Linked DNA regions of Homo sapiens. The protein of the gene in region 4 purifies or fractionates together with the protein of the main gene of each other region. This does not show direct contact. Each region holds a gene or a part of one and is shown on either strand. Other genes may lie near its edges. The genes, in order: LYAR, MTHFD2, MTHFD2L and SRP9.

Region 1 (7,026 bases), on a different chromosome or scaffold from region 4:
AATTAAGAAAACAATTCCATTTGCAACAGCATCAAAAAGAATAATCAGGAATAAACTTAACTGAAGAGGCAAAAGACTTGTTTACTGAAAACCAAAAAACACTGCTGAAAGAAATTAAAGTAGACACAAATAAATGAAAAACATTCCGTACTCATGGACTGGGAGACTTAAAGTTGTTAAGATGTTAATACTACCCAAGCAATCTACAGATTCAATACAATTCCTATCAAAATCCAATGTGTGTGTATATATACGTTTTTACAGAAACAGAAAAATCCATCCTAAAACTCACAGGGAATCTCAAAAGATACCAAATAGCCAAAACAATCTTGAAAAGAACAACAAAAATGCAGATCTCATATTTTCTGATTTCAAAACTTATTACAAAGCTGTAATAAGTTTCTGTAGTTTGCTGACCCCTGCTTCAGAGGATTTCATCGAGTGTGACAGCAGCAGAGACGGAACTCACAGACCCATGCACCTCAACCTTAGGGTCTAGGAACGTCATCTGGTTTTTAGAGAATTACAGAGAGTGCTCAAAAGTGTGGCTGCTGGTCACCAGTGCAAACAGGATTTCATTAGCTTCTCAATCTGCTCTAGTAAGTCCTTTGTGAACAGAAATACCCTCCCAGTAGTATGCTCATTCAGTAAGCTAGTTAATGTCTGAAAAATTCACGTTCCAACTCTATTATCAAATGGAACGATTACTTTTTATTGGTTTTTAGAAAAACACAGAATTTTCAATAGATGACATCCGTCTTTTCATTATCCCACCTTCCTTTCTGAATCCTTCCTCCTGCTACCTATTCTGTAAATGATCAGTAGCATTCTGAGAGTTATACTTCCCAGTGAATTAGGGAGTCAATGTTTCTGCCATTTCTACTGTGCATGTTTTCATGCTGTTTTAGTTAAGTAGAAAATTCTCTGCATTGACGAAAGTATCTTTATTTTGCCTAATTCTAATGACTGGCAGATGTGACAGATTAACATGGCTTGAGTTATAAAAGCTCCATTATCACTAGAAGCAGGGAGAGATTAGAAGCTTCCATTTAGTTTTACAGCCAAGGGAAAGCTAATGAGAATTCTAAAACTTTTTTTTCAAGAAATTAACAAAACACATGGATTAAAGGTATAATGCACCGCAACTGTTTTAACAGCTAGAAGAATAAAGAACTTTTTTTCTTTCTTTTCTTTTTCTTTTTTTTTGAGACGGAGTCTCACTCTGTCACCCAGTACAACCTCGGCTCACTGCAACCTCTGCCTCCTGGCTTCAAGCGATTCTCCTGCCTCAGCCTCCTGAGTAGCTGGGATTACAGGCACCCGCCACTATGCCCGGCTAATTTTTTGTATTTTTAGTAGAGATGGGGTTTCACCACGTTGTCTAGGCAGGTCTTGAACTCCTGACCTCGTGACTCGCCTGCCTTGGCCTCCCAAAGTGCTGGGATTACAGGCGTGAGCCACCATGCCCAGCCAAAGAATTCTTTTTCAAGAGGTTTTAGTTCAACCTGTCTATCCTAGGACATGAGGTTTCCAGAGCTTGTCTGCAGGGATGACACATTTACTCTTAGTCTCTTGGGCTTCCAAAGAAAGCGGAAGCTGTCAGAGGAAGCTACTCAATGAGTTAGAGAGACGTTACCTGAATCCACGCCTGCTGTTTGATGTCGCCTTTGTGGGTTTTACCTTCATAGCCTTTGCCACCATACTTCTGATCTTCACTTATGCATTTCACGTGGTTTTTATAGTCATCGCCCCTTTAAAGTGATCAAAAGTTCTGCCATTAGACTGATACCCAAGTTGGAGGCGCTAATACCAGCATGCTGCCACTATCTTCTGTGGTCTACACTGTATATTTTCACATGTGTCTATCACACAAGCACCCCATCTATTTCACTTATTATGTTTACAGCCTCCTGGTCAGAACCACATCCCCCTTCCTCCAAAGTCGTCAATATAAAACCCATCACCAAACTTTTCCCCCATTTTTATAAACACCTTAAGCTAAATTGATAGGCAGTATTTTTTTAAGTCATAAGTGTACATATACTGAATAAACAAGAAAATAGTTCTATGCAATAGGGTAGTTTTTTTAAATTATAAAAATCTCAATGTCTAATAGACAGTCAATAATTAGTTGTAGAATAAATCAAAAACAGATATAAAATGGCAGCATGAGGTTACCAACAGTTCTGGATCCCTTAGGGTCCTGAGAAAAAAGAAAACTAAATTCTCTCTCATATAATCTTTGTAAAGCTCTATGGGGTTCTTCAGGGAAATGTTGGGGACAAGGTCCAGGGCAAAGTCCCCTAATGAAAACTCAATTTTAACCTACTTTATATATCAAGCTTCCTCCTAGGATTACGTCTGAACAGAGGTTAGCAGTTTCCAAAAAAAATCACTGCTCCAGAATGAATTAAAAGAGAGTATTAGCCAGTACCATCCGAATGCCTCAGAGGACACTGGGGCAGATGCAGCCAGAAGCCAGCTTCTCGCCTGGACCTTCTGAGGCTGAAGGGGAATCAACATGAAATTCAAGAGGGGAGCCCTCTGCAAACGACCCACCTGAAGAACCGGTGTCTAAGGCAGGATCTGTCCTGTCCCTCCCCGCTAACTCCTCACATTCACAGAGGCCTCCTCAGTGGAAGTGTCTCCTGACACACCCGTGGGGCCAGGAAGAGCCTCACTTCCACCAGCACCTCTGATTTTCTAGGGAGGACATAGTTTCCTCTGCTACCAGTCATCTGCCCCACTGTGAGCTCATAAATTCACTTTCTGGTTCATAAGTCCATCTCTCCACTGTGATGGGCATGTGATACCCATGGTCTAATGAAACTGGCTCTAAACCCCTGGAGCCATCTTCCACGCAGTTAGTTCCCTGGGTCTGTAAACAGTGGCAATGCAATAGCAACCAGTGTCACCAACTGACTGAACACTCTAATCATCATAATTCCCCTTCCCCTAGTCTTTTCTTTAACATATCCTCAAAAAGCAAATTGTTTCGTAAAGCACATTTCTCCCCCCCAAGAAGGGGTTAACTTGCTCTGTTGCCCAGGCTGGAGTGCAGTGGTGAAATCTCGGCTCACCGCAACCTCTGCCTCCTGGGTTCAAGCGATTCTCCTGCCTCAGCCTCCCGAGTAGCTGGGATTACAGGCGCCCACCACCACGCCTGACTAATTTTTGTATTTTTAGTAGAGACAGGGTTTCACTATGTTGGCCAGGCTGGTCTTCAACTCCTGACCTCATGAGCCACCCACCTTGGCCTCCCAAAGTGCTGGGATTACAGGCCTGAGCCACTGCGCCCGGCCTAGTAAAGCACATTTGAAAGAATCACACCAGTTTTAATCAATGGAACATACCAGTTTTTAGTCTTAATTTCATTCTTCAAATTTGCCACTATTTTTCCAAGCTTTGTGGCGCCAAGGCTTCCAAAACTGATCTGGATTTACTATGGATCTACATGAATTCTGTGAAGCTTACCAGAAATCTTTACCGCAGTCAATGCAAGAAAGGCATTCACAGTTTCTGCAAACAGACACATGCTTTTCCACTTGTATTTTCTTCACTGATTCACCACATGCATTGCATGTAAAAAATACCATTTTTAGGTAAATGGCTAAATATTCTCTATCCAAGACAGGTTTTAAGTCTTGTCCTAAGGAAAAAAAGACAATTATAATTATAAACTGAAACTTCTCATTTCAATAAATGGCTCATGCCCCTAACTTTTCAACCATAATTTCACATGAAAATAACAGAGTCAAAGTTGATTAGCAATCTACATAAAATTCCACCATTCATATAAGTAAAACTAACATTAACAATGAGAATGGCTAACATTTATTGTGTCCTTACCACGTGCCAGGCACTATTCTAGAGGCTTTACATTTATTCACTTATTCAATCCCCGCAGTAACCCTATGAGGGAAGGACTATTATTGTTCAAAATTTATATGAGGTAACTGAGACACAGAGATTACATAACTTGCCCAAGGATACACGGTTAACAGAACCAGGATTTAAACCTGGCAGATTGGCTCTCAAGATGAAGAGCTTTGAGGGTGTTAAATCTTACTTTCCATAATACCTTAAACTCTCTCTCTGTATATGAAACTTATAGAAGGCATTGCAATTTAGGTGTACACTACAAACTATTTCAGGTCCTCAAATATACTAAGAACACAGCAAGAGGAAAACTGAGTGAAGTTTAGAAAGTGAAGAAGAGGCAATTCTATGGGCACAATTTCTATGGCACTAAAAGCATTCATATCAATATTACTATATATCTACAAAGGTTAAAATGAGGACATGCGCCTCAGCTGTAATGGACAGGGGCCTTCTTCATGTGGCAGCTTGTCAGACAAGTCAGAAAGAAACGGAACCAAGTCCAGGTGTCCCAACTGCTGGGTGCTGAATTACTGGAGTTCACAAACCCAGGTGTCCCGAGCACTGCCCCAAAAAGAAGTATGTCTGCACACGCACATAAACATCATTGTAAAATTTCACAGAAATGCTACCGTGCTCAGGAAAACACAAATTCGTCTAGAAGTGTTAGAGAAGTCACAGTAATTTTCCATACTTACATAATTTTTAATCACTAGATTTTAAAACAGCATTGTTGTTTTACATTATAAGTTTTACAGCAAAAATACTGAGAACTGTTTAACCCAGAGCTTTCTTCCTCATTAGGAAAATAAAGGTGAGGGTCAAGTAAACCGATGCAATTTACTTCAGGGTAGGACTTCATCCAACAAGCTTTCAGTACAAATGATCTACCCTTGGTTTGCAGAGAATTCCCATGCATGAAATCACCGTTGCTCCTCCACCAGCATGTTTTGGATCACTGCCAGTGAGGCCACACCCAAGCAACGACCAAGGTTATTCATGTCCATTCAGCCTTGAATGGAAATGTACATCCTGGCTGCATCTCCAGGGTTCACAAAGGTCCAGCTGGTCTCTTGTGGAGGCCTCTTGCCCTGTGGGACACTATCAGACATCAGCTCAGCTTCTACGCTACATACAAACCACAGACCCCTGATTCCGCGGTCCCAGGCCCCGCTCCTCAGCTCACTATCAGTGTATGTTAGTAAACGGACAGCATGTGGTCAGCTACAACCTAGCACCAAATCCTCAGGAAGGAAAACATGACTACCCTCGATGTGCTGCAGCAACTGTCATCTTCTCATCTGCTTACTGTAAAGATGTGTGATATTGTCAAGCTCCTGGGAGCTGGAATCACGTTTCCCACAACCCAGCTCCCTCAAAGCTTACCATTCTAAAAAAAGGCAGAGGGATGATCAACATGTCAGGCAACAAGAGCAGCTATCCTGCCTGACAAGGGAGAACAAAGGCTGGAATAAGAGCCAACATCACATTCTCAAAGAGCATGGAGGTGCACTTTGGTGTAAGAGCAGGAATAACTTATTAGTCACCAAGAAATAGATTGTCATCACAGGCACAAGGTGAAAGCAGCCGTGATATGCCAAATTATCTGCTGAAAAACGTTAAAGCACTTTTCTAATAAGATACAACAACAAAAAACAGTCTCTGAAACTTAGATACGGCTTAGAGCTTGCCAACCTCTGTTGCTGAGGACAATTCTATTTCTGGATGGAGTGGGAGATGGGAGGAAGAAAGGTTTCGACAAGGCTTAAGAGTGAATTGAGAGATTCCTGTCCCAGCAGGAATTAAAGGCCTAGGAAGGAAGCTGGAAACAAAATATATTGACTGAAAGAAGCAGTGAAAGCAGTGATGTTGACAAAAAGATACTCAAGAGTAACTGTGCCAAACATTCTATCTCTCTGGAGATCGGCTACACACTACAGTGTAATTAAATATCAATTCAGAAGGTGATTAGAATCTGGTTACATGTCCAGCTAAAAAATAACTCTCACATCATTTTCATTTGGTCTTTACTTGTTTAAGGCCAAATGGGTGGATTGCACAGGAAGTCAGAACTGTCTCTTCCTGCCTTCCTCCGGATTTTTACACTTGCCATGAAATGGGAACAGCTCTGTGTCCACTTGCTTGGCTAATGAGCTAATGTCTGTAAGGAGCTTACCTCTCCTTTATTCAGAGCCTGGAGGACAGTCCAGCACCTTGATTACACCTCAAACCCAACCTAGCCCCAGGCGAAAATACCTGTAATTTATGCCATAAACACTTGCTTGGGCTTCAAAGAAAAGCTCAAAACCATCAGAAGCTTCAAAGTCAGCCTAACTGCACAGCAGACAGGGTGTCCCAGGTCTTAGTGCAGGCTTAATATTCGTAAGCGTAAATGCTACAAACTTACAAAAAGCCGTCAGGTGGAAATTCAGTCCCTCTAATGGAAGACAGCAAACATTGCCTAAAACAAAAATGTAAATACTACAAACTTACAAAAAGCCGTCATGTAGAAATTCAGTCACTCCAATGGAAGACAGCAAACATTGCCTAAAACAAAAAAGTAAAACGGTATTGTTCAAATTCCACAAGACTAGATAAGCATGAAGGAAATTTAATTAAACTTTTTTTTTTTTTTTTTGAGAAAGGAGTCTCGCTTTGTCGCCCAGGCTGGAGTGCAGTGGTGCATTCTTGGCTCACTGCAAGCTCCGCCTCCCGGGTTCATGCCATTCTCTTGCCTCAGCCTCCCGAGTAGCTGGGATTACAGGCATCCGCCACCACGCCCAGCTTATTTTTTGTATTTTTTAGTAGAGATAGATGGGGTTTCACCGTGTTAGCCAGGATGGTCTCAATCTCCTGACCTCGTGATCCGCCTGCCTCGGCCTCCCAAAGTGCTGGGATTACAGGCGTGAGCCACCGCGCCCGGCCTTAATTAAATTTTAAATGATGTTTTGGCAAGTTTGGATCATTTATGCTTCTGAAATTATGAAAGCTTAAAACTGCATTAAGATTTTGAGGACACCCAGTCTGCCGGGCTCAGATGTGACAGATTTCAACATCTAGCCCTAAGTGTAAAAAGACAGCAGTTTTTTCATGGGGCTGGATCTAAATAGAGTCCTCTTTTCCTTCCCTGGCTCCCCAACTCCCTCT
Region 2 (7,026 bases), on a different chromosome or scaffold from region 4:
TTGTCTGGAGAAACAGCATTGCAGATCCTTCTCTCATCAATATGCTCTGAAAAAGAAATTGGCACAGTTGCCTTAAATCACCACCGCATAGTCAGCACTGCCTGACTCCAGCTTATCTGCTTCGCAAGGAAATCTATTCTTCTACAGCTTGCCTCTGAGATGTACTTCATCTGCATGGAAGGAACTCGCATAAGCAAAGCCAAACACCAATAGCAAAGCCAATATCGTCTATCACAGCTGCTTCCCTCCACTGTCCTTTGTATCAAGACCACAATACTAAATCAAGGCGTAATTGGTATTCTGAGTTGGTCTGTCCCATTTCTAATAAAATATTCACTCTTTTGAGTTTATTTTGCCTTTAAGCCAAATCCACATGAAGAACCAGGTGTATAAAGTAACAAGGCCTTTTTACCCCTCAGAAACCATTTTAGGTAGGGCATGGTAGTTCATGCCTGTAATCCCAGCACTTTGGGAAGCACAGAGTCCAAGACCAGCCCAGGCAACACAGACAGACTTTCATTTCTAGGAAAAATGTAAAAATTAGCTGGGCATGGTGGACATGCCTATAGTCCTAGCTATTTGGGAGGCTAAGGCAGGAGGATCCCTTGAACCCAGGAGCTTGAGCATGCAATGAGCTATGATTGTACCATTGCACTCTAGCCTGGGTGACAGAGTGAGACAAGGAAAGGAGAGGGAGGAGGAGGGGGATGGGGAGGGAGAGAGAGAGGGAGGGAGAGGGAAAGGAGCAGAAGCAGCAGCAATCATGTTAAATGGAGTCCAAAACTCACCTGGAAGAGGCAACTGAACAAGGAGGCCATCTACATTATCATCATTATTCAGTTTATTGATTAAATTCAACAATTCTTCCTCTGAAATTGAAGCTGGTTTCATAATTGTCTCACTGTTGATTCCTATTATAAGAAATTTTGAGGTTAAAAAAATTTTTGAGGCATTTAATGAGCACTGCTATGTTGCCTACCATACTTGGCTACCATACGGGTTTTGTATCATCACACTCATCCCTAAAAGCTGAAGTAGCTCAAGGAACCTAAAAAAGTAACTTCACAAATATATACACCAGAGAATACTAGCTTAACACATCCTGTATACCTCATTCTATGCAATCTTCATTAACCTTATTTTACAGACAGACTGAGGCTCAGAGAGGTTTAAAAATAAGCGAGCTAGGCCAGGCACAGTAGCTCACGCCTGTAATCCCAGCACTTTGGGAGGCCAAGGCCAGCGGATCACGAGGTCAGGAGATGGAGACCATCCTGGCTAACACGGTGAAAACCCGTCTCTACTAAAAATACAAAAAATTAGCCAGGCTTGGTGGAACGCGCCTGTAGTCCCAGCTACTTGGGAGGCTGAGGCAGGAGAATCGCTTGAACCTGGGAGGCGGGGGTTGCAGTGAGCTGAGATCGCACCACTGCATTCCAGCCTGCGCAACAGAGCGAGACTCCGTCTCTAAATAAATAAATAAATAAATAAGCGAGCTAATAATACAGCCAGTCTTTCTGGTTCCAAAATCCATGTTCTTTTTTTCTGCACCACACTACCTCCCAATGTCTTAAAATGCCATGGCTTGGCCAGGCACAGTGGCTCACGCCTGTAATCCCAGCACTTTGGGAGGCTGAGGCAGGCGCAGATCACCTGAGGCAGGTGGATCACCTAAGGTCGGGAGTTCGACACCAGCCTGACCAACATGGAGAAACCCCATCTCTACTAAAAATACAAAATTCGCCAGGCATGGTGGCCCATGCCTATAATCCCAGCTACTCGGTAGGCTGAGGCAGGAGAATTACTTGAACCCGGGAGGCGGAGGTTGCGGAGAGCCGAGATCACGCCGTTGCACTCCAGCCTGGGCAACAAGAGCGAAATGCCGTCTCAAAAAACAAAACAAAATGCCATGGCTTGCCATTATCTAGAGGTTTCTAAAGGCTTTCAATTAAAAGAGCAGGAGGCCTCACTCCTCAATAATAAAGAACAGAGAAAACCACAGGCTTACAGGCCAGTAACCCCACCCAGCCACGCGAGTGGTTTCACAGCCCTTCGAAGGAAAGGCCACCTGCTGCTCAGACCACAGGCCCACAGATGGGCAGGCAGAGGCATATCTGAGCCTGCCCACCCACCTCTTGTCCACAGAGACACAGTAATCTGTGGTACCGTGAGACCTAGAACACAAACCCCATCATCCAGACCTGAACTGCTTCTAAACTGCATGTTTGGCTTTAGAACCAATCGGTGAAGAACTTGAAAGCTATTTCCCAGAAGTCAGAGTCATTTCCTTCAAATCTACGACTGTGTTCCTGACCTCATCACTGAGGTCACCTAATACTGTATTGCTCAATCATGCCCCCTAAGCCTCTAAGGCTTTAAGCTGCAAACACTCAAACACCTCCACTGGAGACCCATTATTGCTCAAGGAAAGCAAATGTAAAATGCATTCAGGGTCACCTATCAAATATAAAGACTAAGAACAGAATGTAGCTTATATTCTTTCCAGAAGCCACAGAGAATACCAACCAGTATCTCCTGTCCTACTGTATAAACCCCGAAAGATATAGTCTGATTTCCTATGACAAAGTTTTGGGATACAGTTCAATCACATTAGCCTCCTCTGCTTGGGTTTCCTAATCAGAAAAAAGAAATCATAAATTAGAATGGACTTTGCCTCATATAAACCTCAACTGAACCGCAGTCGAGGTCTCAGAAGGACACATACCCACAACTGCAGCTGCCCTGGTTTTGTTGAGGACATAGGAGTGACTTGCAGGATTCTCGCCAACCAGGATCACACTCAGGTGTGGCCGTTTGTTGCCTGAGGCCACCCACTCTTCTACCTCCTGCCGCACTTCCTGCTTGATCTGCTGGGCCAGTTTCCTTCCAGAAATGACAACAGCTTCATTTCTGCAGAAGGCAACAGAGTCACAAAACCAAATAACTTGAATTTTTATAAAAACTAAAACTCTGCCAGGTGTAGTGGCTTATGCCTGTAATCCCAGCACTTCGGGAGGCCGGGGCAGGAGGATGGCTTGAGCCCAGGAGTTTGAGACTGGCCTGGGCAACATGGCAAAACCCTGTCTCTGCTAAATAAATAAATAAATGAATGAATATATCCAGCTACATATGGAGGGGGATAAAGTTGATAGAAATCATTATTATCATTAATTTGAAGCTCAGGGAGTTTAAGTGACTGACAGCGCTTGGTCAAGCTGAGTCTCACATCAGTCTGGGCTCTTAACTGCTACACCACCCTGCGCCCTGATCATTACTAAGTGTTTTACAGTTTTAATTTGCAATTGTTTGACCCCTCACCATGAGGTTAAATAGTTTTTCTTATCTGCTTATATGCCATTTGTAGTTCGTGTTTTGTCCCTGTTGTTAGCAGCCAGGCATGTATTTCAAATCATTTCCCAGTCAACTGACTTCATTTTTATGGTGGTTTAAATCGATAAATTATATTCTGTAGTTGAATAAACAAACAATATAGGCCGGGCACGATGGCTCACGTTTGTAATCCCAGCACTTTGGGAGGCCGAGGAGGGCAGATCACAAGGTAAGGAGTTCGAGACCAGCCTGGCCAACACATGAAACCCTGTCTCTACTAAAAATACAAAAATTAGCTGGGCGTAGTGGTGGGCTCCTGTAATCCCAGCTACTCAGGTGGCTGAGGCAGGAGAATCACTTGAAACCAGGAGGCAGAGGTTGCGGTGAGCTGAGATTGTGCCACTGCACTCCAGCCTCGGTGACAGAGCTAGACTCCGTCTCAAAAATAAACAAACAAACAAACAACATACTGGACAGGTCAAACATCAAAATGACCACCACTCCCCACAGTCCCTTCTGGGGAAGACTTTCCTGGTAAGAATAGGGGCAGGGCAGGGGACTGGAGGAAGCTCCTTCTCACAGTTGGCAATGTGCTCTTCCCAGGGACCCCACCATATCATCCAAAGCTGACAGACCAGGAGTGAGTATGTGACGCCAAGGGCAACAATCTCTAGGCTGGCCAGTGGTCCAGTTGGCGCAAAAGCTTAGCTCAACAGAGCAGTGAGAGTTAGTTGAACCAGTAAGAGCTCGTCCCTGAGGCAGTTCAAACTAGAACCACAGAACAAAGACAGAAAGAATAGGCAGAATAATAGTCACACCAATGGGAGACAACAGGGCAAGAAATCAGAAAACTGTTGCTGAGGTGGGGAGCAAGAAGAAAAATCAGGATCTAGAAGAACCTCCAGTTCCCAAAACCATGTTCAGCTGCCCGAAAGGCTGTCTCTTCCCAAAGAGAACTGCTTATGCAACTCTTCCTGGGTTCCATGAAACCCAAATGTGGAAGAGTCCCAGTTTTCCTATTTTCACACATGTCCTTACAGTAAAGTGCCCATTACTTAAAGATGAGCATCTGGCCCAGCGTGGTAGCTCAAGCCTGTAATCCCAGCACTTTAGGAGGCCGAGGAGGGTGGATTGCTTGAGGTCAGGAGTTCCAGACCAGCCTGGTCAACATGGCAAAACCCCGTCTCTGCTAAAAATACAAAAATTAGCCAGGCATGGTGGTGCGCGCCTATAATCCCAGCTACTCAGGAGGCTGAGGCAGGAGAATTGCTTGAACCCAGGAGGCAGAGGTTACAGTGAGCTGATATCACCCCACTGCACTCTAGCCTGGGCGACAGAGAAAGACTGCATCTCAAAAAACTAAACTAAACTAAACTAACTAAACTAAACTAAACTAAACTAAACTAAACTAAACTAAACTAAACTAAACTAAACTAAACTAGATGAGCATCTCTTCCTTAAGTAAAATGATCCCATTAAAAAAAGCCTTTCCCTTTAGATCTCTGTCCTTGGTGTCATGAAGACTGCTCTAACCTCAAGACCAATGAAGTAATCTCCTCTTATATTCTAAAACCTAACATCAAGGTACTGAATATCCTGTAGGGTCAGATAAAATTAATTCTCAAGATAACTGCTAATTTATTTATTTATTTTTTTTGAGACAGAGTCTTGCTCTGTTGCCCAGGCTGGAGCAATCTCAGCTCACTGCAGCCTCCCAAGTTCATGCAATTCTCCAGCTTTTGCCTCCATAGCTGAGAATACAGGCACCCACCACTGCACCCGGCCAGTAACTGCTAATTTAAATGGGATTTTAAAGCTTTCACAATCTTTAGGCCTTCAATAAGTGTTTTTTATTGCATTATGATTAAATACCAACTTTAAACCAAATCTCAACATCTTAGATATAATGCAATAATCTTATATATAAACTTTATCTTAATCTGTATTGCATCTTGTGAAGTATTAAATTATTATAATCTGGCCAGGCACGGTGGCTCATGCCTGTAATCCTAGCATTTTGGGAGGCCAAGGTGGGCAGATCACTTGAGGTCAGGGGTTTGAGACCAGCCTGGCCAACATGGCAAAACCCCGCCTCTACTAAAAATACAAAAATTTGCCAGGCATGGTGGCAGGACCCTGTAATTGTAATCTCAGCTACTCGGGAGCTGAGGTAGGAGAATATCTCGAACCCAGGAGGCATAGGTTGCAGTGAGCCAAGATCACGCCACTGCACTCCAGACTGTGTAACAGGGCAAGACTCCATCTCAAAAAAAGAAAAAAGTTACAATCTTACAGCAAATCAAATACTTTTACCCTGATTTTATATAATACTAGCATGGCACAACATATAATAGCATTTAATTATACCCATGGTATATGAAGAAATTGAAAACATATTAATATTCACAATTCCATTTCAGAATTAGAGTCGAAGAGGACTTCATTAAAAGGGTTTTGCAGGCCGGGCATGGTGGCTCACATCTGTAATCCCAACACTTCGGGAAGCCAAGGTAGGCAGATCATGAGGTCAGGAGATTGAGACCATCCTGGCTCATATGGTGAAACCCCGTCTCTACTAAAAATACAAAAAATTAGCCGGGCATGGTGGCACGCACCTGTAGACCCAGCTACTTGGGAGGCTGAGGCAGGAGAATCGATTGAACCCGGGAGGCAGAGGTTGCAGTGAGCAGAGACTGCCGTGAGCGGAGATCGTGCCACTGCACTCCAGCCTGGGCAACAGAGTCAGACTCCATCTCAAAAAAAAAAAATTAAAATAGGGGGGTTTTGCTGATACAAATACACCTGGCAACATTCCTCATTCCTGATTTGTATTAGTACCTGGAATGCCCACCGCAGGCCAAAAATACATTCCTAATCCTGGAACACTACAGAGTGAAAGACTACTTTAAAACGGCTTAGAACAGTCATTTATGTTGAATGAAATAACAAACATATATAATGTGCCAGGCATATATGTTCAATAAAACTAATTTCTTACTCTTTTCTCTTGGTTTTATATATATATGTATATATACACACACATACACATGTATCCTTAAAATAGATACACTTACACATAAGGAGATATATATAAGTATATACACTATATGTATATCTAGTCAGTGAGAATGACTTAGCTTGCACCTCATAAAAAGTTTCTTTTGAAAGCAGTAAACTTAGAGAAAATGGTATTAGCACATTCAGATAAAATCATATACTGAAGTTAAGGACACAGGGTTCTGGGAAAAGCCAGTGTTCCAAGTCCCAAACTTTGCTTCCAAAAGCAGGTTCTGGATGTTATGCCAATTTGCTTAAAAAAAAAAAAAGAAAAGAAAGAAAAACAGTCAAAGAGTAACAAGAACCAAAAACAAAGTCACATGCAATGAATATCTTTCATAGTATAACTGTCAGCCCTCCTCTGCTTCCCACAACTCTGCAAAATGTGAAATACAGCCTTGGGAGTGAGTCATTAACTAATTTAGCATCATCTCTTTTGCCAAGGGGCAGATTAACTGCTACCCCAAAATAAACAGGGAAATGGAGAGTCAGCTAAGTCCCACGGGGAATCCAAAATTGTAACTATATTAGCTAACATTTATCCCAGAATTAAATGCATTCACAGATGTGTTTAGAAAAAATTCCCAGGGCTGGGCATGGTGGCACAGGCCTTGTAATCCCAGCATTTTGGGAGGCCAA
Region 3 (7,026 bases), on a different chromosome or scaffold from region 4:
TTATGGAAGTTTCACCTTTCTTTGTGTCGCACTGGCATCGGCTGTATAATTTTTGCAGCTAGACCACATTTTAAAAAAATCTACATTTTTGGAACTAGTAAAAGATACTTATTTGTGTTATTTAAGTATTCACGTCTTTTACCGTGGGTAGTTAAGTTTAATAATTTAAAAAGACACATTTTATCAGTAACAATGTTCATTTTATTTTTCAGACTCTTCCCTCTACTACTTACTCTGTATTTCTGTCTCTTCTAATGACTAGGAAAGGCAGTTTCTCAAAATCATCTTCTATTTAGTTGGCAAATGTGATAATGTGGGTAGTGTTCCTACCTTCCTGCTGTATGTGTTCTACTGAAATGAGATATAATAGCCATCTGGCTACAATTTTGATTTCTAAGAAGTTCTTATGTCATTTTAAATTCAAAAACTAAGTGTTTCAACATTTGGTCTCTCATATCTTAAGTTTTATTTTCTTTGTTCCAGCTGTTCAGAGATAGTGTGTTCTAATATCTCCACAATCAAGATTTTTGACTAAAATGGATCAGTACATGAAAAAGAGGGACTAGTATTAATTTTAGATCTTGTTAGTTAATCATGGTCTTACTAATAATTTGGCAAGTTCTTTAATGAGCCAAATCTTTGTATTTCAAATGCCTTGAAGTTGTTATTCTTTCCTATTAGTACCCTGATGGGAGGATGAAAACAGCAGAAAGGAGCAGCACCAGATGATCTTTTCATGGGCACGTACTCTTTCAAGGAATCCCATGGAGCTCAGTGAAATTACACTTTGGCTTAGAGATAATTAAGTTGTGGAAGGAGGTTTAAGAGAGGAGCTTAGGTGAAATTTGAGCTGTAAATGAGTATGCTAAATTAAAGAAATGATTAGTAATAAATGAGATTTGCTATTAAGAAATTCACTTTGGATCTGAGACAACATTTTACATACAATGTAGAAAACTTTATGGTCAGAACAGAACACAGTCTGAACCTAAATTAACAGTAGTGTTAAAGAATTCAGGGCGGGATATTATCCAAGAAGGCCTAGCCAGCTGCTCCACTTAATGTTACATCACAAGTGGTTTCTGTGTTGCTATTGTTTTTATTAGCATTTCAATGACTGTGTCATATTACATTAAATCAATTGGCTCTAACTTACCTAACCATCTTGCTGCTTTTTATTGTCTAGTTCTTGGAAAATATGTAATAATTTACTCTCAGATTGAGGTCATGTCCTTGTCAATGTCATACCAACCAGGTTTGTTCACTGCATCATCTGAACGCTATGTAGGTTTCTATAATTAGGCTCATTAGAGTGTTCCTAGATCCAAAGACTATCTAAAGATCTAAAGATTCATAATTCTAAAGTGAGGGTGTGTGTATAGTTTACAACAGATGTTCTCTCCCCACTTTTTTTTTTTTTTTTTTTTGCTGTTTGTGATTAACTGGAACTGCAATGAATGCCATCATGCTTTTAAGGAATTCAGTTGTATTGTTGAAAAATACAATTTTCTTAATATCTAAGGAGCTCTTAGTCAGTGGTAAGCACTTTGCTGAGATTTTGCATATACAGTATGTCCTTCGATCCTCACAACAACTAAAGGAAGTAGATAGACACTATTACTATTCCCAGTTAACAGATTGAGAAATTGAGGCTTAAAGAAATTAAACTTGTCAAGTTGACACAGTAAATACATGGTGAAGACAAGGCTTGAACCCACATCATCTTTCCGGTGTTCTTCTCTACAAGCAGTTTATAATTATTGACTTATCTTACTTTTTCTTCTTTTTGAAACATTTATTAATATTAAATCTCATACAACTTTTGTGAATCTAGAAAGCTAATTTTGCATGTAAATTTTAAAATTATTTTGTTAGATTCCCTCAGTTTGAGATGTTCTTAACCTGGGACCTTATGGATAGAATTCAGAGGATCCATAAACTTGGATTGGAGGTTACTAACTTCTGATAAATTGAGCATTTTTTTTTTTCCATTGTTAGTGTTGGCAACAAATACATAATATCATCAGTACATGTGACTTGCTAATATAATTTACAGATATTTCAGTATCACAAAGTTGAGGCAGATACCACAAAACATCATCTGCACATCACTATTTTGTTATGGTAGTTAGACCTACCACTAGATCCTGTTATTTAATACTTTTAAAAAAAAGCATTTGATAATATTTCAGTAAAACTGGTTTTCCTTGTAATCTGTATTTTATATTGAATGTTTAAAAGGATTGTTCTGAGAAAGAGTCCACAGGTTTCAGCAGATAGGCCAAGAGCTTTTGTGGCACAAAGCTTAGCATCTAAGGTTCTTTCTGACAAAGTTAGTTTGAAAACAATGGATATTGTTTAGTACAGAGTCAGAAAGTTAACTAGTTAAAAAACTGGATACGAAGAAGAGTCATATATAATGAAAAGGTATTTTACTTTTTATTGATTTGCAGATGTAATTTCTAGTAAAATTACTTCAAGATGTGAATAGGGTACTTGGGGTATGAAACAAATTTTTTTAAAGAGGTCATAAACTTAACACTTGCAGGTATTCATTTATTTTAATAACACACTTCAAAAGACTCCCTATACTGGTGATTGGTTTTATTCCCTATGGAATTTTGCCCTGTTTTTGGGGGGTTTCATTTCTATTGTACAAACTCAAGACATCGAAGATATGCCCTAAGATATAAAGCAATTAAACTGTATGTTAGGGCCTGGGTAGAGCTTGGAATTGTTAATCATTCTATTAGGATTTTTCGTCTTTTTTTGTTTGTTTGTTTTGTTTTTTGTTTGAGGCAGAGTCTTGCTCTGTCACCCAGGCTGGAGTGCAATAGCACGATCTTGGCTCACTGCAAACTCTGCCTCCCGGGTTCATGCCATTCTCCTGCCTCAGTCTCCCAAGTAGCTGGGACTACAGGCGCCCGCCACCACGCCCGGCTAATTTTTTGTATTTTTAGTAGGGACGGGGTTTCACCGTGTTAGCCAGGATGCGTCTTGATCTCCTGACTTCGTGATCCGCCCGCCTCAGCCTCCCAAAGTGCTGGGATTACAGGCGTGAGCCACCATGCCTGGCCAGGTTTTTTCAACATTATAGAGATAAAATGGTTCATTGCAGCTCTAGTTGAAGTCGTGAATAAAGATGAGATTGAAACTAAGATATGGATTTGCCAAGTATACGAATTAAATAAACTCTTGATCTTGACTAGGTTTTATTTGTTGGTAAGCTACTTTTTTGTGGAAGAGTATTTTGATACATAGAAATAATCCTCCCCCTTTGTTATTTTGCTCTAGTTTATTAAATAAATCATTTGATTCTAATAAGCGTAGATAAGGTGGTTAGTTTATTTTCTGGAAGTACAAGTAAACAAGCCCATGGAAACAGCACTAAGTGCTGAAGACTTTCTGCTCTCATAATGTTTCTGGTTATCGAAATATGTCTCCATCTGTAATTTAGCAGAAACTAAGAGAAAGAGCCACTTTTGCAAACCAGCCCATGAACTTTTAGCCAAATCCTCTTATGTAATGTAAGGTCAACAAGAGAGTATTCCCATTATATAGATGAAGAAATTGCATGCCGTTGAGAGAAGCTAAGTGACTTGCCTAACTTTATTATTGCTACTAATGGTAACCCAGAGCTCTGATGCTCAGGACTTCTAATTTCAGGTGAGTAGTTTGTACTACATAGTGCTGCCCTGCTACTCACTAGCCACCACCTCCCTTCTTTAATTTTTGCCTCCTGATGAAGCCACATTTCGTGGCTAGCCCAGCAGTAGGCTGGGCTTTTGGAAGGGAGGGCACCTTTTCTTGCCTTTAGGGGAAGGTCATTTCTGCCTTTGTGGGAAACCACCTGAGCAAGTAATGACAGGGCACATCATGTAAACAATATCTAAGGGGTCAAATGGATTTTATTTTTGATATGCATTAATGGCAAGGTCACTATGTAATTTTTTTGGCCAAACTAGCACATTTTTTAGAGTAAAAAGGGGCACGAATGTAATGAAAATTATATATTTGGAATATCTATTGGCTTACAAATATATTAGTGAACTTATAGAATAGTTTCAGACCATTTTCAAAATTAACATTTTAAAAGATAATTTATATCCTTATGTGTTAAAATAAAAATTTATATTACATGAACATTCAGCATGAACAATTATTCCTGGTGCATATTCACATGCTTGAATCAGTTTCTTAGCTGTATCTTTTAACACCTTGATCCTGATAATTTTCTGAAAAAAGTTAATAAGATCTTATGCTTTGTTTATTTTTTTTGAGACAGAGTCTTTCTCTGTCACCCAGGCTGAGTGCAATGGTGTGATCTTGGCTCACTGCAACCTCCGCCTCCTGGGTTCAAGTGATTCTCCTGCCTCAACCTCCCGAGTAGCTGGGACTACAGGTGCATGCCACCACGCCCAGCTAATTTTTCTATTTTTAGTAGAGACGGGGTTTCACCATATTGGTCAGGCTGGTCTTGAACTCCTGACCTCGTGATCCACCCGCCTCGGCCCCTCAAAGTGCTGGAATTACAGGCGTGAGCCACTAGGCCCGGCCCTTGTGCTTAATTTTAAAATTAAATTTTCTGCAATTTTCTTAACAGTTGCAAATAGAATCTTTGCTTTAGACAATGGTTATTTTAGTTTTAAAGGTACTGTCTCTATAGATGCTGAAACACCACATAAACTGCTAAATGGAACAGTCTTAATTCTACATTTTGCACATTGAAATGGGAAGATATTTTAGCCTAAATATTTTCACAGGTGCTATGTTGGTGTATCTTTTCAAAGTACTTTTCTTTGACAAATATTTAGATAAAAGAAATAAGTTGTTTTTGTGTATGATTTTAAAAATAGTTTACCATATTTAGATAGGGGAAAATTAAAGTTTTTCTCAATTGTATTCCAATGTTTTACAAAATGGTAATTTATTCCAGGAAATTTTATTCAACAAAAAATATGAGTTCCATCAGAAGATTATTCTCAGACATTGAACTATTTAAAATTGCTATTATAGATGTATTTATTTACTAATTCTGCTGTATACAAAGTTCCACAAACTAGCTAGCTTGAAACAGCAGAAATCTGTTTTCACACTGGAAACAGTGGAAGGAGGCTGGAAGTCTGAAATCAAAGTATCTGTAGGCCCACACTCTGTCGACTAGCTTCTGGTTATTGCCAGCAGTCCTTGGTGTTCCTAAGGAGTTTGCAGCTGCATAACTCCAGTCTTTGCCTCTGTTGTTAAATGGTTGTCTTCCCTCTCTGTCTTCACTTCCCTTTTTATGTGTCTCTGTGTCTTCTCTTGTAAGGACAGAAATTAAAATTACTTGTGCATTGTTTGAGCTATGATTTTTTAAATTAGTTTACTTCTTCCCTTCCTTTTGAAGAGATAAGGTTTCTGTTTGTAAGCTTTGGTTTCACTGATTACAATTCACTAAAAACTTTAAATCTGAAGGTGTCCCTACTCCCATTTGGTCTGTTTGTTGAATATGTTGATTAATAATGACCAACAACTTTTGAAAAAAATGCAACAAGTGTTGCCCATCCCAGTGCCAGGCCAGCCCCCACAGACACAGCTTGTAGGCCAGTCCTTGCAGACCCAGGCTCTAGGCCTGCACTAATGCCAGGGCAGCATCCAAAGATTCCAGCTGAGCCTCTGCAGACTTAGGCATCAGGTAGAAACTCATGGACCCACACTGTAAGCCTGCCCCAGTACCAGGTCAGCTTCCATTAATTCAGGTCCAAGCCTATCCCCAGGGACCCAAACTCTGCACCCAACCCCATGGTTCTAGGTACCAGGTCTTCCCCTGCAGATCTAGGTACCAGGGCCATTCCAGAGGACCCTGGGCAAGCCTAGTCCCCACAGACTTGGGACCAGACCCATTCCAATGCCAGGCTGGTCCCCATGGACTCAGGCTCAAGACCTACCCCAGTGCCAGGATGGCCCCTATGAACCTAGGCTTCAGGTCTGTATTTGCAGACCAAGGCTCCAGGACTACTCCTATATACCCAGTTGACAGCCCACCCCAGTGGACCCATGCACCGGATTAGCCCCCTGTGAGTTGAAGCATTAGGCCCACCACCTGCTGACCTAGGCATCACCTGCCAACTAATCCAAGGGCTTTAGCAGCAAGCCCACCCATGGGCCATGCCGGATGGCCCATCAAGAATCTCTAGATCCACTGACTGGTGAAGGGCTTTCCCTGCTGAAGCCAGTTTAGAAAGACTGGAATAGGCGCCTACTTCTTCAAGCGATAGACAGCAATGAAAGGCCACAGGCTTGTGAACCATTAGGGAAACCTGGCACCACAAAAAGAACAAAATTAACAATAATTGACATAAAGAAATGGAGAGCTACAGGCTGCCTATCCAGAGAACACAGGTAGACAACTAGACAATATCAGTGATTTAAAATACTACAAAAGGGTAAAAACCAGGTACTGTGGGAGCTCACAGCAGATTCCCAGGGTACAGGGTTGGGAAAACATCACAAGAGTGTTTTATAAGCTGAGACTTGAGCAATGTGTGGGACAGACTTGGCAAAGTGGTTGGAGAGGTGAGAAAGGGAAGGAAGAGTGTTTCAGGCAGAGGGAATATTATATCTGAAGATCTGGAGAGAACATGGTGCAGTTCATGAATTAAAATATGACTGGTGTGTAGTGCGCGACTCACTAAGCACAGTGTTCTTTAACAGTGAGGCTAAAGTAGCTCATGCAGAAGTGTGTAACCCATAGGGGATTGGGATTTTAGTTAACTTTTTCCCCCAATTTCTCAGGTCAGAAATGTTAGAGTCATGTTTGCCTTCTGTTTTTCTTTTTTTCATATCCTACACCCAATCTCAGTAACTCCCAAGGGTTCCACTCTCAAAATAGATTCAGAATCAGACTACTTAGCACCTCCATGGCTACCCCTTTGCCTAACTCCCCATGATCCCTTGTTTGTTATACTACACTAGCTTCTTAGCTGGAGTCTCCACTTCTCCCCTTGATCTCATAGAGTCTATCCTTCATATTTTCACCAGTTATTT
Region 4 (7,139 bases):
ATGCCATCTTCAATTACAGCAATACAAGACAGAGTGGTAAAAAGATACTGGGTATAATCAACAGGTTAAATGTGTTGCGGAGAGAAGACAGAGAATTTTGGAAAACAGATTCCAGAGACCTGACAAAATTTGTTCTTTAGCCCTAGCAGAAAGAGAATGGACTTGGGGTTCAAAGATCTGGGTCCAAATTTCATCTTAATCTCTCAAGAAACTAGGTATATCACTTAACAGATATAAAATCATTCATTTATATACTTTGATGGGTTGCTGTAATTGTTCATATATTATGTATAAATCTATGTAAACACACATAAATATATATTAAATGCCTGTAACATATAAACATATGTAAAATGCCTGTCACGTAGAGGCGGAGGTTGCAGTGAGCCAAGATGGCGCCACTGCCCTCCAGCCTGGGCAACAAGAACAAAACTCCATCTTGGAAAACAAACAAACAAAAAAAACTGTTAAGCTCTTCCTCTACACTCATCCTCTCCCCTCTCAACATATCAGTCAAGCCAGGCGCCATGGCTTGTGTCTGTAATCCCAGCTACTTGGGAAGCTGAGGCAGGAGAATCACCTGAGGCAAGGATTTAAGACCAACCTGGGCAACAAAGCAAGAGCCCCGTCTTTAAAAAAAAAAAAAAAAAAAAAAAAAATTAGGCAGGCATGGTGGCATGTCTGTAGTCTCAGCTACTCAGGAGGCTGAGGTGGGAGGATCACTCGAGCCCAGTTCAATGGTGCAGCGAACTGTGATTTGTGCCACTGCACTCCAGCCTGTGCCAACTGCAATTTTCTGACTGGGTAAGAGGTGAAATATTCTCTTTCTTGTCTATTCTAGACATGCTTTGCTCACAGTGATGCTCTAATTATTTTCATTTTCCCTACCACTGCCATCACATTCTTACAGTACAGTTACTCTTGATGTGAATTTATATATTCTTTACTGTTGTCTCAAGTATTTTTAGTTTATACTGTGGGTACTTCTGGATAAAAGTCCTGTGTGGTCTCAGAGTAGCATTGTCTGAATGAAGAAACAAATGACCCTGCCAACAAGGGAAGCTAACCAAATGAAGCAACCAGAAGTCACCAGTGTTATAAACAAATTACTCAATTTAAAAAATACAATTTCCATCATTTATTATTGTATCATTTTATTGTAAAAAATAGAAGTATGTTTTACAGCTTGTTACTTAGCTAGGTCTTTCTGTGGGTCTAATACTATTTTTAATCATAATTATCAACATTTCTTGCTGCACACTTTAAACTTATATGCACTATAAACTGTATGTGGCATTGGAGTTACAGGTTACCAGCTCACTGCATACACTTAAAACATAATTCATATTACTTAATGATCATCAATAGTTTCACACAGTAAATCCTGAGCCCTGGGCTGGGCGCAGTGGCTCACACCTGTAATCCCAACACTTTGGGAGGCCAACGCGGGTGGATCACGAGGTCAGGAGTTCCAGACCAGCCTGGCCAAGATGGTGAAACCCCGCCTCTATTAAAAATACAAAAAATTAGCCAGGTGTGGTGGCAGGCGCCTGTAAACCTAGCTACTCGGGAAGCTGAGGCAGGAGAACCGTTTGAACCCAGGAAGTGGAGGTTGCAGCGAGCTGAGATTGAGCCATTGCACTCCAGTCCGGGCGACAGTGCGAGATTTCGTCTCAAAAAAAATAAAACTATTGAAAAAAAAAAAAAAAGATCCTGAGCCCCGGTTTTCCGAGATTTTATCTGCTTTTAATTTTCTTTCTTCTCCGAGGGATACAGTCACAATACACTGGATCTATAATACCCTCCAATAATACCAGCTCCTTAAGGGTTGAACGGAATCTCATTCACCTTTGTGTCTCCCACAGAACCTAATTTAACTTGGGGTCAGTAACACGAGAGTGGGAAATGAATGCAGCATAAAAGAGATAACTGAGTTACAACAAACACAAAACAAAAGAAGCATCATACATAACCAGGTCTGAGGTTTTCAGTATAAAATCCCTTCAATATGCTGAGTTCTAAAAAGAAGCAGAACTTTTAATTAACACGAAGATGCTTCAAATAATTCTTAGACATGACAATAAAATAACCAAAACCTCAAGAGACGAAAAGTAAGACCCGAATGCTAAACTCCCATCACTTGGACTCCTTTGCTTTTTAATAATGAGCTAACCTCTGACATCCACCTCCATTATAATTTTTGTGGGGGCTAAGAATGTATTTCAGAGGTCCATGAATCCCTTAAAATTGTTTGCAAACATTTACTTATACATTTACTTATACCATTTTTCTGAGGAAAGGTGCAAATATTATTCTTATGGTCCCAAAGCCTGTGACTCCCAAAATACTAAGAACCAATATTCTGGGGGGTACAGATGCTTCCAAATTGGAATCTTTCAAGAATGTCTGAGCGGTAGTAGAAAAAACATCATCAGTTTTATATACATGAGGTACCCTTACCGCCTAGGCGGTACAGGAAAAGTGAACCAAGACAAAGGACAGGAAGCTGCAGGGGGAGGAGCCCTGGCTTCAGGGACTCGTAAAACAACCGAAGCCATAAAGGAAGCTGAGGGACTGGGGCGGGAAGATCGATTGCAGAAATGTTTAGGGCTGAGATGAACCTGGCTGTTGCCAGCTTCAGGGCCTCACTGGGCCGCTAGATCAGGGAAGAAGGGGACGAGAGAGCAGAACATTAACTTGGCAGGGTCCATTTGTGTTCATTCCCAGCACCTCCTGGGAGCGCTGGGGAAGCTCCAGGGGCCGAGTGGATGGCGGGAAGACATCCTGGGCTGGGGCCCAAAGCAGCGGCCCCGCCAGCGATTTACCTTCATAGGGTCAGCGAGGTAAAGCTTCTCGGCAGCGCGGCTGAACTCCTCCCAGGTCTGGTACTGCGGCATCGTGGCCTAGAGTGGAAAAGTAAAGAGAAGCAAGGCCTCAGAACCCGGCCCAACAAACTACCTACGTCCGGGAGTCGCCAACCGACGCGAGTCCCAGCAGCCCCAAGATGGCGGCGCCTCCTCGCACCAACGCCTCGCTCCATTGGACAGCCCCGTCCATGCTCGCCCAATGGGCAGGAGGGATGTTGTCAGGGAGTGGGCGGAGCCCAGGGCGTGTGGCTCGAGAGCTGAGCGAGACAAGCGGAGGGCACGGCAACCAATGCCGGCTGCCACAGCGCCCCCGGTAGGGCTGAATGAGTGGCGTCCGTCCCGTGGCCCTCAGGGCTGAACCGCAGCTGCCTTCAACAAAGATTAAGCGGCTCTGCGATAGTCGCTGCATATACGAGGAAGGAGGCGACAGGGCCCAGCTGTCACACAGCTTGGTGAAGAAGCCAGGAGACATAAACACAAGAGTGCAACGGAAAACTTTATATGATAAACATTTATGTCGGGTTAGTGGAGCGCGAAGGAAGAAGGATCTCTTGTGGGTGGGGGGAGACTCACAGAAGCGGTGCAAGCTCAACAGGTAGGCAAGGAAGGGCAGAACACGTAGGCCCATTTTAGATCTGCAGTGTATGTCAGATGACTGGTGTTTAGGAGATGAGGAAGAAGCCATATTATCACTTCTGCAAGGATAAAAAATCTGATCCTCCAAGCAGGAGGATCGCTTGAGCCCGGGAGTCCGAGGCTGCAGTGAGCCATGATCGCGCTACGCACCCAGCCTGGGCTTCAGAGGAAGACGCTGGCGCAAAAGTAAATAAATAAAGAAGATGGCCTGCAGGGGACACCAGGTAAAGGGTATTATATTTTGAGATGGAAAGATTTTGTGCATGTTTATAACTTTTAGAGAAGGACACATAAGAGATAGAAAAATAAAAAATACAAGAGAAAGAAGAAAGCGAGGTCTCGGGAAATATGAAGGGGAAGACCAAAGGCCCAGATGAATAAAAACAGGTGCATTATTGCCTTTGATGGGGTGAGGAGGAGGGAAAAGTCGGGTGAGGGTATAGGTGAGCATGTAGATACGAGGGCAAGAAGGTACATTTTCTTGTCACCTAAGACAGGAGACCACCTTCGTAAATAGGAAGGGTGGTTTTGGATCTTTGAGGAAGCAAGGATGGGTTTGGATCCTTGAGGAGAAGGTTTGGAAAAGCCATTGTGAGAAATGAATAAGGAAGCCTATTAGAAAAAAACAGGTGGGAAGCGGTGGTGCACACCTGCAATCCCAGCACTCTGGGAGGCTGAGGTGGGCAGATCACTTGAAGTCAGGAGTTCAAGACCACCCTGGTCAACATCGTGAAACCCCATCTCTACTAAAAATAAAAAAATTAGTTGGGCTTGGTCGTGGGTGCCTGTAATCCCAGCTACTCTACTCGGGAGGCTGAGGTAGGAGAATCTCTTGAACCCAGGAGATGGAGGATGTAGTGAGCCAAGATCGCATATCACTGCACTCCAGCCTGGGCAACAGAGCAAGACTCTGTCTCTAAAACAACAACAACAACAACAACAAAAAAAGAAACTCAAAAGCAATATGTCAAGTAGAGTAAAAAGCTGAAACTGGAGATCATATCTGGGAATAGCCCCAATTAGGGTCTGTCTCCAGCAACACCCAGAAGCTTGGATTTTGGACTGGAAAAGACAGATATTAGGGATTTATAGGGTACATGAGGAAGAAGAACAAAGGGTCAAGAATGTTGTAGGTGGTACTGGCAAGAGAATGATTGAAATGATAAATTATGGGATCCATGCTAGATAGCTGGTAATTAATTGAGTCAAAAGAGAGAAGTTAAGGAACCAGGATTAAAGGAAATCTGAATTCAATATAGCAGGAAATAAGTTTTAGTCAGATTGGATATTGGGGTTTAACATTTTAGAGTAGCAATAGTCCCTGGTGAGGCTGGATTTATAGTTGGGTTGTCCACACAAAGTCAAAGTCTTCTATGAGTAAGAAAAGGAATAAGATGAAGGAGAAGGCTATGAGCCAGGGACCCAAATCCTCATTTAATGAGACACGTGTGTGTGTGTGTGTGTGTGTGTGTGTGTGTTGAGGGAAGCTATAAAGAGCAATGAGCAGAGGCAGAGAGGGCAGAGTTGGGCAGAATGACCCCCAGGTGTAGGGGTTTTTCCCTGAAGATGAAAACAATGGAAGTTAAGACAATGCCAACTTTGCCTTCTGTCACAAGGAACATAAGAGATCAGTTTCAATTCAATTCAGCAAAAAGTAAAACAAGTGTCCACCCTGGACAAACACCAGGAGCTGGGCTAGGCATTAGAGACCCAGCAGTGAACAAGACAGGCCCAGTCCCTGCCTCATAGAGCTCACAGTTATGGAGAGAATGACAGTAAAGAACAGATCTCCATTGTGAGGGTCCCCATCACTGTGAGTTCCAGCATCTCCAAGCTTAGCCCAGCCTCAGCCCCTACAGAGGCAGAGAAATCAAGATAAGGAAGAAGTTATGGGAATTGCCCTTGATTATGCAAATGTCCCCAGTCACACTAGGATGCATTCTTTTTTTAAAAATTTAATTTTAGGTTCGGGGGTACATGTGCATGTTTGTTACATGGGTATATTGCATACTGGTGGGCATTAGGTTTCTAGTGTACCCATCACCCAAATAGTGAGCATTGTACCCAATTGGTACCTTTTTAACCCTTTCCATCTTCCCACCCTCCCCCTTTTGGAGTCACCAGTGTCCATTATTTCCATCTTTATGTTGATGTGTACCCGTATTCGTCCATTCTCATACTGTTATAAAGAACTACCTGAGACTGGGTAATTTATGAAGAAAAGAGGTTTAATTGAACTCACAGTTCTGCAGGCTGTACAGGAGGCATGACTGGGGAGGCCTCAGGAAACTTAACAATCCTGGCAGAAGGGCCAAATCAAGTGCTTGGAAGCCAGCACTTCTTCACGTGGCAGCAGGAGAGAGAGAGAGAGAAGGGGGAAGTGCTACACAATTTTAAACAACTAGATCTTGTGAGAACTCACTCACTATCACAAGAACAGCAAGGGGGAAATCCACCCCCATGATCCAATCACCTCCCACCAGGTCCCTCCCCCAACACTGGGAATTAGAGTTCAACATGAGATTTGGGTGGGGACACAGAGCCAAGCCACATGAGTGCCCATTGTTTAGCTCCCACTTATAAGTGAGAGCATGCTGTATCTGGTTTTCTGTTTCTACGTTCGTTGACAGGATAATGGCCTTCAGCTCTATCCATGTTGCTACAAAGGACATGATTTCATTCTTTTTTTTTTTTTATGGCTGCTGGATGCATCCTTTAAACTAGGTTATTCCTTTCCTGCTGTGGCTTCTGAAAGGCTATCAGAGAGTGTCCTTTATAAATTGCTCACACATGCACAATGTCAGAAAAGGAAAAATTCCTTTCATTCCCAGTCAAGAAGATCAGGGCCTCTGTACCCTTTGTGGTTATCCTTTCTGCTTCATTTTCACACACATATCTTATTTGAGCTTTCAAACAACTCTGCCAGGGTGGTCAGTGAGCCTTATTACAATTCCAAAAATCTGAAAAGCTCTGGAAAACAAAAGTATCTTGGTAACTCCATTAGTAGAAAATGACCTGACCTCAAGTAAGGTTGCTTAGTCTTTATTTGTTTCACTTGGTGTGTTTGGTTCCAGGGTGGGGCACAGACCCTGCTGGTGGTATTATGTAATATACCACATGTGCACTGTATCACCTTTCTAGGATCCAAAAGGCTGTGAATTCTGAAATACGGGTGGCCTCAAGGATTTCGGACAAGGGATTATAGTCCTGTGCCACTCTCCTTTACAGGTGATGAAGAAACCAAACCTGAAAAATAAGTGACACTAAACAGATTGGCCCCAGACTTTGCTCCGGATTGTCCAGCAAATGGCAAAAGCCAGTGGATGTTAATCATAACCGGAAGTGACAGGATTAATTTTGATTTTTAGAAAGTGTAACTAGTAGAAATACAGAAGCTAGATCGGTAAAGCAGAGCCTGGGTGCAGGGTCAAAACCAAAAGCCCTTGCACTTTTCCTTATGTTCACCACCTCCCGCGATTGTGTTCATGTCTTTGCCTCCCATTCCTGATCCCATTTCTGATCCCATTTCCCATCCCATTTCCACTGTATCTACCCTCTCACCCCAAAGTTGCTTTCATGGGTTCACCAGCTGACTATTATATTACCCACTCCAGCAGACATCTCTCAATCCTTTGT

Evidence for each region.
Region 1: the proteins of SRP9 (region 4) and LYAR purify together in Homo sapiens (co-immunoprecipitation; 2 studies listed by BioGRID and IntAct, with this or other methods). This does not show direct contact.
Region 2: the proteins of SRP9 (region 4) and MTHFD2 purify together in Homo sapiens (co-immunoprecipitation; 3 studies listed by BioGRID and IntAct, with this or other methods). This does not show direct contact.
Region 3: the proteins of SRP9 (region 4) and MTHFD2L purify together in Homo sapiens (affinity purification with mass spectrometry; 2 studies listed by BioGRID and IntAct, with this or other methods). This does not show direct contact.

What each region holds. Positions count from the first base shown.
Region 1 is NC_000004.12:4,280,147-4,287,172, forward strand, and holds part of LYAR (cell growth-regulating nucleolar protein), read right to left. Parts: intron 6,427-7,026; 5' UTR 6,373-6,426; intron 3,650-6,372; 5' UTR 3,597-3,649; coding exon 3,475-3,596; intron 1,752-3,474; coding exon 1,637-1,751; intron 1-1,636. UniProt on the Homo sapiens protein: Plays a role in the maintenance of the appropriate processing of 47S/45S pre-rRNA to 32S/30S pre-rRNAs and their subsequent processing to produce 18S and 28S rRNAs. Also acts at the level of transcription regulation.
Region 2 is NC_000002.12:74,201,589-74,208,614, reverse strand, and holds part of MTHFD2 (bifunctional methylenetetrahydrofolate dehydrogenase/cyclohydrolase, mitochondrial isoform A precursor), read right to left. Parts: intron 2,911-7,026; coding exon 2,726-2,910; intron 912-2,725; coding exon 789-911; intron 47-788; coding exon 1-46. UniProt on the Homo sapiens protein: Although its dehydrogenase activity is NAD-specific, it can also utilize NADP at a reduced efficiency.
Region 3 is NC_000004.12:74,161,099-74,168,124, forward strand, and holds part of MTHFD2L (bifunctional methylenetetrahydrofolate dehydrogenase/cyclohydrolase 2, mitochondrial), read left to right. Parts: exon of another isoform or gene 1-681; coding exon of another isoform or gene 682-729; exon of another isoform or gene 730-1,155; intron 1,156-7,026. UniProt on the Homo sapiens protein: Bifunctional mitochondrial folate-interconverting enzyme that has both NAD/NADP-dependent methylenetetrahydrofolate dehydrogenase and methenyltetrahydrofolate cyclohydrolase activities.
Region 4 is NC_000001.11:225,773,699-225,780,837, reverse strand, and holds the start of SRP9 (signal recognition particle 9 kDa protein), read right to left. Parts: upstream 3,013-7,139; 5' UTR 2,898-3,012; coding exon 2,826-2,897; intron 1-2,825. UniProt on the Homo sapiens protein: Component of the signal recognition particle (SRP) complex, a ribonucleoprotein complex that mediates the cotranslational targeting of secretory and membrane proteins to the endoplasmic reticulum (ER).